Linked DNA regions of Homo sapiens: region 2 is linked to region 1. Evidence: fine-mapped expression QTL. Tissue or cell type: whole blood. Region 1 holds a variant in brackets; the other region holds the start of a gene. Each region is shown on its reference strand, or each on the opposite one. Region 1 overlaps BCL11A (BCL11 transcription factor A). Region 2 holds the start of LMOD1 (leiomodin 1).

Region 1 (4,388 bases):
AGCTCTGGAAAAGAGAACAAACAAACCAAAGAGAAGGGATCCAGAGGTCACCCTCATATGTGAAAAGTCAATTGATAATGAAGGCTTTAGGATAACCGGAGGGGAGATGATTGAAAGCAATGCACCTGTGCAGGAAATGGATTACGGAAACAGGGAATTGTTCATGAAATCCCAGAAAACCAGAACCGGGAAAGTTCTGGAAGTCGGAAAAACAAATCATGACTTAAGCAATGGAAGTCCAATACACGTTTACAGAATGCCTTGTCCCACGAGGCAACACAGGCTACCACAGATGGGGGACAGGGTGGGAGTGGACCATCCCAGTGGTGTTACTGAGGGGCAAAGGGATAGCCCTATGAGGCAAGTGTCCAGGGCAGAACTGGAGCTTTGTGAAACCATTTCCCAGGCAGAGACAGAGCACTAGGCTGGTGCTGCCAGTCTGACAATAAGTCTGCCATTGTCCTCTGGTCAGCTCTGGACACACAGCAAAAGTGAGTTCAGAGTAGCCTGAAGCAGGAAAGAGGGAAGAGAGGAGGATAACACCTATCTTCCACTTTGCTGCAGGTTCAAGGCAAGGATTTGAGACAGTTACCCCTTCTGGAAGAGCCTGGTGAGTACATCTCTCCTGCCTTGTACAACCCTCTCTCCTCACCGACTTTCTCTCCCAGCAGCCAGCAGGGGCCTGGGCCATTTATGGAATGCAAGCCCTGACCACACAGACTTACTTACATGCCAGGACAGCCACCAGGTAGCCTTTCCCACTCTAGGTTCCACTGTGAGTGCTCTCTCTCTCTCTCTCTCTCACTATGCTCCCAAGAGGAGTCTTACATCAACCCCTTCCTCAAATCTCCCTCACTGGATGTCACAGTCATAGGCCTGAAAAGCAGCATGCAAACTGAATTTTTGTAAAGCAGGACCCATTTCCCCATGGACAGTCATAAGAGATGAGTGAACACAATGTAGCACTTAATTTCTGTCTTCACGATTACTTCACGATAAATCTGGATTCCAAAGGGACTATAAGCTCTCACATGGAAGGAAGCAAGATCTCTACTCCTCCCCCAGTGTTGAGTGGACAGGGAGTACACCGCAGACACCTGTTGGCCAACCAATTCTAATTCCCTTTAGCTAGCATCCCCTAAGCTAGAGCTAGAGCTAGAGCTATTTCCTTGCAGCCTTCCTTTTCTCTAGCAAAGTCCTTCCATGCAGTAGCTAATGACCTGTAAACACTTAATGAGCTAGAGAAACATTCCATTGAAAGGAATACCACTGTGCATCCTTTTGTAAAGAGGGGGGAAAATCTTTTGTAAAACGAAGCATCGCCTTTAACTGCTCTGTTTGATCAAGTCAGATTTTTCAGAATATGAATAGCTAGTATTCAAGCATATATGAACTGTCTTTAAGTTAATCAATCCCTAGAAACTAGCCCTCAGGTTAGCAGGCCAAGGATATATGAGAGTGCTTTGAAGTCTAGACTTAAACTGCCGCTCCTGAATTGAATTAGAACATTCCAGGTAGACAGATTCATGGCCCCTAACATCAGGAATCAGCTAGAAACTCAATCGGCTCTTACCAGTCACTACCTACGTCAGTGCCATATCCTATAATGGTGATGATAATGACCATTATGATGATGATAATAATAATAATAGCTTCCACTGGATGGCACTTTGCACCTTCCAGAGCAATTTAACATCCTTTACTTTTTTTGGAAGGCCTTCAGGTCCAGCCTCCTACTCTTCTCTTTCTCTGAACTATCACCTTACTATAGGCACATATTTCCCCCAAAGGACTCAGTGGCCTCTTTTGTCTCATTTCTCCCTTTGCTGATGATCCAGTAGAGAAATGATCAAAAGGATCCTGCACATTGTCCTAAATGAAACCAAGCTTCCTCTGCAGGATGGAAGTGAGCCAGGTGATAGAAGGGGGAGCCTGGACCCACCGCTTCATTGGCCGAGGATGACCCCATAAAGGTCAGGGTGTTGCAGAGATTGCTATGCACAAAATCCAAGAGGCCCATGGAGGTGGGGAGATGAGGGACCCACCTGGCAGACCCTCAAGAGCAGGGGTCTTCTCTTTGGGGGAGGACATCACTCTTAGCAGGGCTGGGGTGAGTCAAAAGTCTGGGAGAATGGAGGTGTGGAGGGGATAACTGGGTCAGACCCCAAGCAGGAAGGGCCTCTATGTAGACGGGTGTGTGGCTCCTTAAGGTGACCCAGCAGCCCTGGGCACAGAAGTGGTGCGTGGAGATAATGCCAACAGTGATAACCAGCAGGGCCTGTCAGAAGAGGCCCTGGACACTGAAGGCTGGGCACAGCCTTGG[G/C]GACCGCTCACAGGACATGCAGCAGTGTGTGCCGACAACTCCCTACCGCGACCCCTATCAGTGCCGACCAAGCACACAAGATGCACACCCAGGCTGGGCTGGACAGAGGGGTCCCACAAGATCACAGGGTGTGCCCTGAGAAGGTGGGGAGCTCACAGCCTCCAAGCATTGCATCATCCTGGTACCAGGAAGGCAATGGGCTGCCCCATACCCACTTCCCTTCCTAGAATTGGCCTGGGACATTCATTATTTAGCCACCTCTGGCACCTGCATTTGTTTTTCAAATTTTAATAGCAAATAGGCTTAGTGTGCTGGGCAGAGCTGAGCAGAGGTGATCTGACCCCTCTACCTACTCACATAAGATCAGTAAAGAGAAGGAAGCAGGCAGATGAGGTGACAAGGGGAGAAACCAGTGAGGTCATCTATAGGTCCAAGTTCGTACAGACCCAGCCAGACTGCCAGTTCTCTGAGGAGCTAGAGACTTGTGGCTTAAGGAAGCCTCTCTGATGGATGTACTAATATGTATGTACCTTATACATACATTTGAATTACCTGTAAATCTTGATCAAACTCAGATGACTGTCCAACTCATCCAGAAACTACGTTTGTCTAATAGAACAGGAAGCAGGTGGTGGTGGTGGGTGGTGGGGGGGCATTGATGAGAGGCAGGGCCAGTGTTTCTTCTTCATTTTCCATTCCACTGATTCTGTCCCCACACAGGCATCCAAAGGGAAGAATGCTACAGCTACAGTCCATTTCTCGCTGGCTTTTCTGGGAGATCACCCTACAATGTGTTCCCCAGTATTCAGGTTTCTGGGCTGCCATTATCTTCTCTGGTCTCGGGGCCCAAGCCAAAGAGCTGGAGAACAGTATCTGGCCACAGAACCTAAGGCCTGGTAGAGCAAGACAGCCATGTGCAAGGCGAGTGGATAGCGCCCTTCCGTCACTCCCACAGAGCTGCAGGGGTGTGACGCCCCTGCCCAGCCATACCCTTCTGGGCCACAGTGCTGGAGGCTGAAGTCAAAGCCCATCGTGCCTTATTCCTTCAGGAGCAATACTCCTGGGAAAGGTTGCACATTCTGTAACTCCTCTAAGTGATATTTCTTCCCAGGGGCAAAAAAGGAAATTAGCCCCATTTTATAGATAAAGAGCCTGAGGCCCAATAGGCTGATTGACTTGTCCGGGGCCACCTAGCCAGCAGGTGAAAAGACTCATGTGTAGCTGACTTTAGAGTCCAAGCTCCTTCAACGTCCCACTTTCTCAAGACAGTGTTTGCCACGGGCCAGGGCTAGCAAAAAGACCCCTCCAACCCCTCATACCTCCCCACCAACCCCATGCAGGTGTCAGTGAGGCCCAGGAACATGAAGCTCCCCGGACCAAAGGGGTGGACAGCACTGAAGGAAACCGCTCAACCTTGAGTGGAGAGGCTGCTGTGAAACAGCTCTGGGCAGCACCTGGGCCACAGCATGTGGAAGGAGACATGTTCCTAAGCTGCCTGGTACTCTGCCATCTGTCTTCTCTTCCTCCTAATCCATAAGCACCAGACCTCAAGCCCCATGTGCAGCTCCGGAAGCTGCTAGACCTCAAGCAGGACTAAGATTCGGAGAGAGCAGCCACCGACCTGGCTCCTCCCAGGCAGGCCAGCCCAGGTGAGCCCCTCCAGCCAGGCACTCACCCCACTGCCAGGCTGTTTACTCTTAGCTGGTGTTTGTCTCCTGTCTGCTCTACTGTAGCTCCCTCCCTCCTCTCCTCCTTTCGGTCCTCTGCCCAGGCCTGCCTGAGGCTGCCTGCCAGTGAGATTGCATGTCAGGGCTTTGCCCTGGGCACTGAGGGCTAGGGTGCCCAGAGGCCTGCGGCTGTGCCCTGGATGGAAAACCAGCAGCCTGCAAAGCTGTGGGGGCAGCACAGGACCTGTGTGTGAGAGCGGTGGTCTTGAGAGTGAAAGTGGACAAGTCAAGCCCAGGCGGGGAGGGGACAGGGGGCAGGTAGGGATAGGGCAGGTGAGGTTCCCGGGGCCAGTTCCCCCATTATGCACTGCCTCTGCTTCCCCGCCACCATTAACCGT
Region 2 (4,388 bases), not on the chromosome of region 1:
CTTACATCAAGGATGTACACACAAACACACACACCACTTCTATTTCTTGACTCGGGCTCTGTCCGCAGAACCAAGTGTGGACCTGGCAGGGGTGAGAGAGGTGAGGCAGGGGAGGAGACACTTGTCACGGTATTAACTGGCTGAATAAAAAGTCTATGATAGTGAAATTTCCAGGAACAGGAGAATCCTTCACACTCTTGCTTGTGATTAGACTGCTTTGTTTGACTTCAGCCTCAGGAGTACCTTTCTGAGCACTGGAAGCTACCGGACACAAGGCAGTCATGGGCCCAGAGCCTGCGACTGGGAGTGGGGAAGAGCAGAGTCAACGATTTCCAAGGGTGCCAAAGCCTTTGGCTGCATTTCATTTCTTTCTGTATGATTCCTGATAGCTGTGTTGGGGTACCGGGCCCTCACAGTAAGTGCTACCACTTTTTCTGTAAATGTTTTGGTTTTATTTATCATTATCATAGCTGCATCTGGGGCAACCACCTTGTGCATACAGGACAATAAATTCCTGAGCCTCCTGGCTTCCCTCCTTCCTCCCTCCTTCTCCCTCTTCTTGGCAAAGGCTTAAACATAGGTGGTGGGGCGGGGGGGGGCGGTAGGGACAGAGACAGAGTTCCAGCTCCTCTTTGCTTCACCCCCTTCCCTCCTCCTCCCTTCTTTCCCATTGCTACACTAAAGGAGTCAGGGCTGTGTCCACCAATATGCTCTGTGACTAGCAGTCAACACAATTTCATACCCAGCCAGTCATTCCGCAGGCATTTTGGATGATAATGTTCCCATTCTCAGTTCCTCTGTGAGAATGTGCATGTCATTTGAAGCTCTGTGCCTCAGTTTCCATAGAAGTAAAACAAAAAGCAAGAATTGAGACTGATCTTTTTCTTGCAAGAATTCACAAGTAATGGATAATGTACAAGAGATGTGGCTGAATAAGAGAACTAGAACAAAGACTTGAACAATTTTCCTATGCAACACTCTTTCCCATGGACAAAGGTATCCCACAAAGTCATACTTCATCGGAGGCTAGTTTGTCCAAAGAAAACTCACATACCAATGCAATAGTGACAAAAAAAAAATTCCTCCATGCCAACTCAGGAAAACAGAAAGCAAGTTGTGCTTAAGCCCATTGTAGGTGTGGGCAGATGCTTCCAAAACCGTCACCCCTTTTCCCTCCTCTATGACTATCTTCAACCCCCAGCAAAGCGGCCTCGCCAGCTGCTAAAGGGTTAATTACCAAAAAGAGGGCATGCTCCCTCCAGAGGCTCCTCTGGAGAGTGCAAAAACAAAACAAAACCAAAAACCAACTAACCACAACAAAAAACATCTTCCCTGGGAATAAATTTGAAGCTTATCAGGTCTTTAAGCCACATTTCCCAGCCCATAGACTCCTGGTCCCTGTCTCCCTTTGCTTTGGGAAACTCATTTACCCCCAAGCCTCCTGAAATGATCCATGTGCCGTGAGATGCCCATAGGGTTGGGGACTTGAAAATGAGTTATTCTCCCACAAAAAATGGCTTAGCTTTGTCTTTTTGGGTGGCTGACAGGAGACATAAAGTATCACTCTCTCTTTTTACCCCTCCTCACAATAGGATGGAATGAGTGTGGAGAAAAACAAAGGTATTGTGGGACCAGGATGGAGTCAACTTGACAATGGACTCTTCAAGGACACCTTCCAGCTCCCATTCTACTAGTAGCTCTATTTGATTTTGTGGGATGTTGTGTTCCTCCAACATATCCGACTTCTGCTTATAAAACAGAAATTAGGAGTAAGAGATTCGCACCGCTAGTTCAGTGGATAATCATCAGTTCTGAAGCATTAAAATCCTTTGCCAACAAGAACGTTTCTTCTAAGGAAGGAAGCATCCTAATCATGAAGCCAGGGTCTCCAGCCCTCCCCTGTCTCCCTCCTCCCCTCCAGGGCTGTGCTCACTCACATCCATGGACATCTCCCTCTGCATAAGTTTCTTGGTCTCCTTTTCACAGAAGTTGAGCATGGCCTCCCGGTTGTACACACCCGTGGACTGTTTCTCCGTCTGGTTTCTCTGCCGCAGCCCCACGGGAACACTCCCGTCTGGGTCCACCACGTCCAGCTCCTTCTCCAGCTCCTCCATCTCCTCGGGAGACAGGGTCTCCAGCAGGCTGTCGATGTCGGGGTCTTCACTCACCTGCCGGCGATATTTGGCTACTCTAGACATCTTGGCAAAATGGGCTGTGGCTGCCAGGGGCTATCAGAGTCCTGGTGGGCAGGGAAGGGAGAGGGGTGAGCTGATCTGGATGCAGCGAGTGGGCTGAGGAGCAAACCTCCTGCTGGTCGAGGACTGCAGCTCCTTGGCCCTTCTGTGCTACAGGTGCTGAAGTGTTCACTGGACGCAGCAGCCTCCCTGAAGCCCAGGGCTAGTGGACCCCGGCTGGTCTAATCAGCGGCCAATAAGACCCGACAACTGCCAGGCCCGGAGAGGAGAAGCCAATCCCCAAGCTGGGGGCGGGCCTACCTCGCTGTCAGAGCTGTTTGAAACTTGAGGACATTCCAGGGAATCTTGGAGCGCTGCGTGACCAAATTTAGTACAGAGCAGTTTAGCCTTTTAAAGACAAGGGGCCACGCAATGAGAAAAAGATACAAAAATGCGTAGGCTGGCAGAAGCAGATCACAGCCACGGAGAGCCAGACAAGCAGGGACGAGGCCATGAGGGCCGGTGAACTCGCCAGCCCGGGGCACGTTCAAGAGCGTATTTTACTACTCCATCACCGGGTGGACGTATCACTGTGGTCAATGTGTGGTTCATGGACTTCCTTCTACAGTATTTGGTAATGTGCTGGGGGGCTCCCAGGTGTATACAGCTCCAGGAAAGTCTAGATTCAAGATGAGGAGCTGTTACTCCTAACCCCCTGCCTACCCATTTTCTTTCTACCCAGGTTCTGCCAAGGAGGACCTGAAGGCTGAGCATCAGAGGCTCCAGGATCCTTTGGCCACTTCTTAAGAGAGAGACAGGAGACAGAAAGACAAACTTAGAGATAGAGATAGCTAGGCAGGAGAGGGAGAGAGAGAGAGAGAGAGAGAGAGAGAGAGAGAGAGAGAGAGAATAAATCCTTACTGTGTACCAAAACTGAAAACTGGCAGGCTGTTTGGGAAAGAGAGAAGGATCTGCAGAAGTCGGGAAACTCTTAAAGGGCTGTCACTTTCCATGAAGTTCCAAGGCTCTTGGGAAGAGGGTTCAAACCTCCCCCTGTTGTCATCTGTTTCTTCCTCTGCCGGGCATCTGTAGACAGACCTCCTTTGGGAGCACAGAGGCAGGTCACCACCCACATATAAATCCAGAGCACGATTTAGTATGTCTTCAGGGAAACAGAATTCTGGGCCGTCGGGAGAGATACGATTGCAACAGGTCTGGCATGTTTCATAGAAGGGCTTTCCACTGCTCATCCATCATGCTGCCCTGCACAAGTCACAGAGACATTCAATCCCCTGCCCCCCTTCCTCCTGCCACAAAATCCCTTCTAGAAGCCCTGGTGTAACCCATCAGGGTAGATGCTTCGATCTTTCCTGGCATCTTTCCATCCTAAGCCAGAGAGAGACAGTCACTTGATCAGCATTTGCTGAGTCCAGGGATCGTCTGGGACTAAAACTTGGCCGTGCCATTTAATGTCCACTAGTCCAACTTTAGGTTAAGGCTGAAGAGGGGAATGGTGTCCACTGGGGGGACTGAAGGGCAGAAGGAAGGCAGGCAGACTTGATAGGAAGAGTGGAAGAAGACTTTAGGGAAACCTGGGGGTTGTCATTTTAAGAGTCAGTAGCCAACTTATTGGTCAAACCGTAGGTATATATTTATTGAGTGATTTATCAAGTGCCTATTATATATCAGGCATTGTTCTAAGAGCAAGAGATATCACTAAAGATACAAAATCAGGCCAGGTGCAGTGGCTCATGTCTGTAATCCCAGCACTTTGGGAGGCCAAGGCAAGAGGATTGCTTGAGTCCAGGAGTTCAAGAACAGGCTGGGCAACATAATGAGACCCCCATCTCTCCAAAAAAAAAAAAAAAACAAAATTAGCCTGATGTGGTGGTGAGCATCTGTTGTCCCAGCTACTCAGGGGGTTGAGGTGGGAGGATTGCTTGAGACCAGAAGGTTGAGGCTGCAGTGAGCTGTGATCACGCTACTGTACTCCAGCCTGGGCAACAGAGTAAGACCCCATCTCAAAAAAGAAAGAAAGAAAGAAAGAAAGAAAGAAAGAAAGAGCGAGCAAGCACAGGGGCTATGGGAAAACACAACAAGAGGAGGCTGAATAGAAGTATGATTTAACAGTGAAGAGCTTGGGCCTTTGAGGCCAATAGACCTGTATTTGGTCCTGGTATTGCTACTTACAGGCCATGTGACTTGGGCAAGCTA

What was found. PIP is the estimated chance that this variant, and not a neighbour inherited with it, causes the effect. A credible set is the group of variants that fine-mapping cannot tell apart.
Region 2: it holds the start of LMOD1, and the variant in region 1 is the best candidate, but not a certain one, in a credible set for the expression of LMOD1 in whole blood (TOPMed, PIP 0.89).

The regions. Positions count from the first base shown.
Region 1 is chr2:60,495,993-60,500,380 of GRCh38, forward strand. All of the region lies in intron 2 of BCL11A (BCL11 transcription factor A), which reads right to left. Among named protein-coding and RNA genes, the nearest start is that of BCL11A, 55 kb to the right of the region's middle. RefSeq lists enhancers at 969-1,578, 4,002-4,211 and a silencer at 3,292-3,361. The variant G/C (reference allele first, on the strand shown) is at 2,324.
Region 2 is chr1:201,944,143-201,948,530 of GRCh38, forward strand. LMOD1 (leiomodin 1) reads right to left here and starts at 2,406. Exons shown (of 3, transcript NM_012134.3): 1 at 1,938-2,406. The coding sequence starts at 2,198.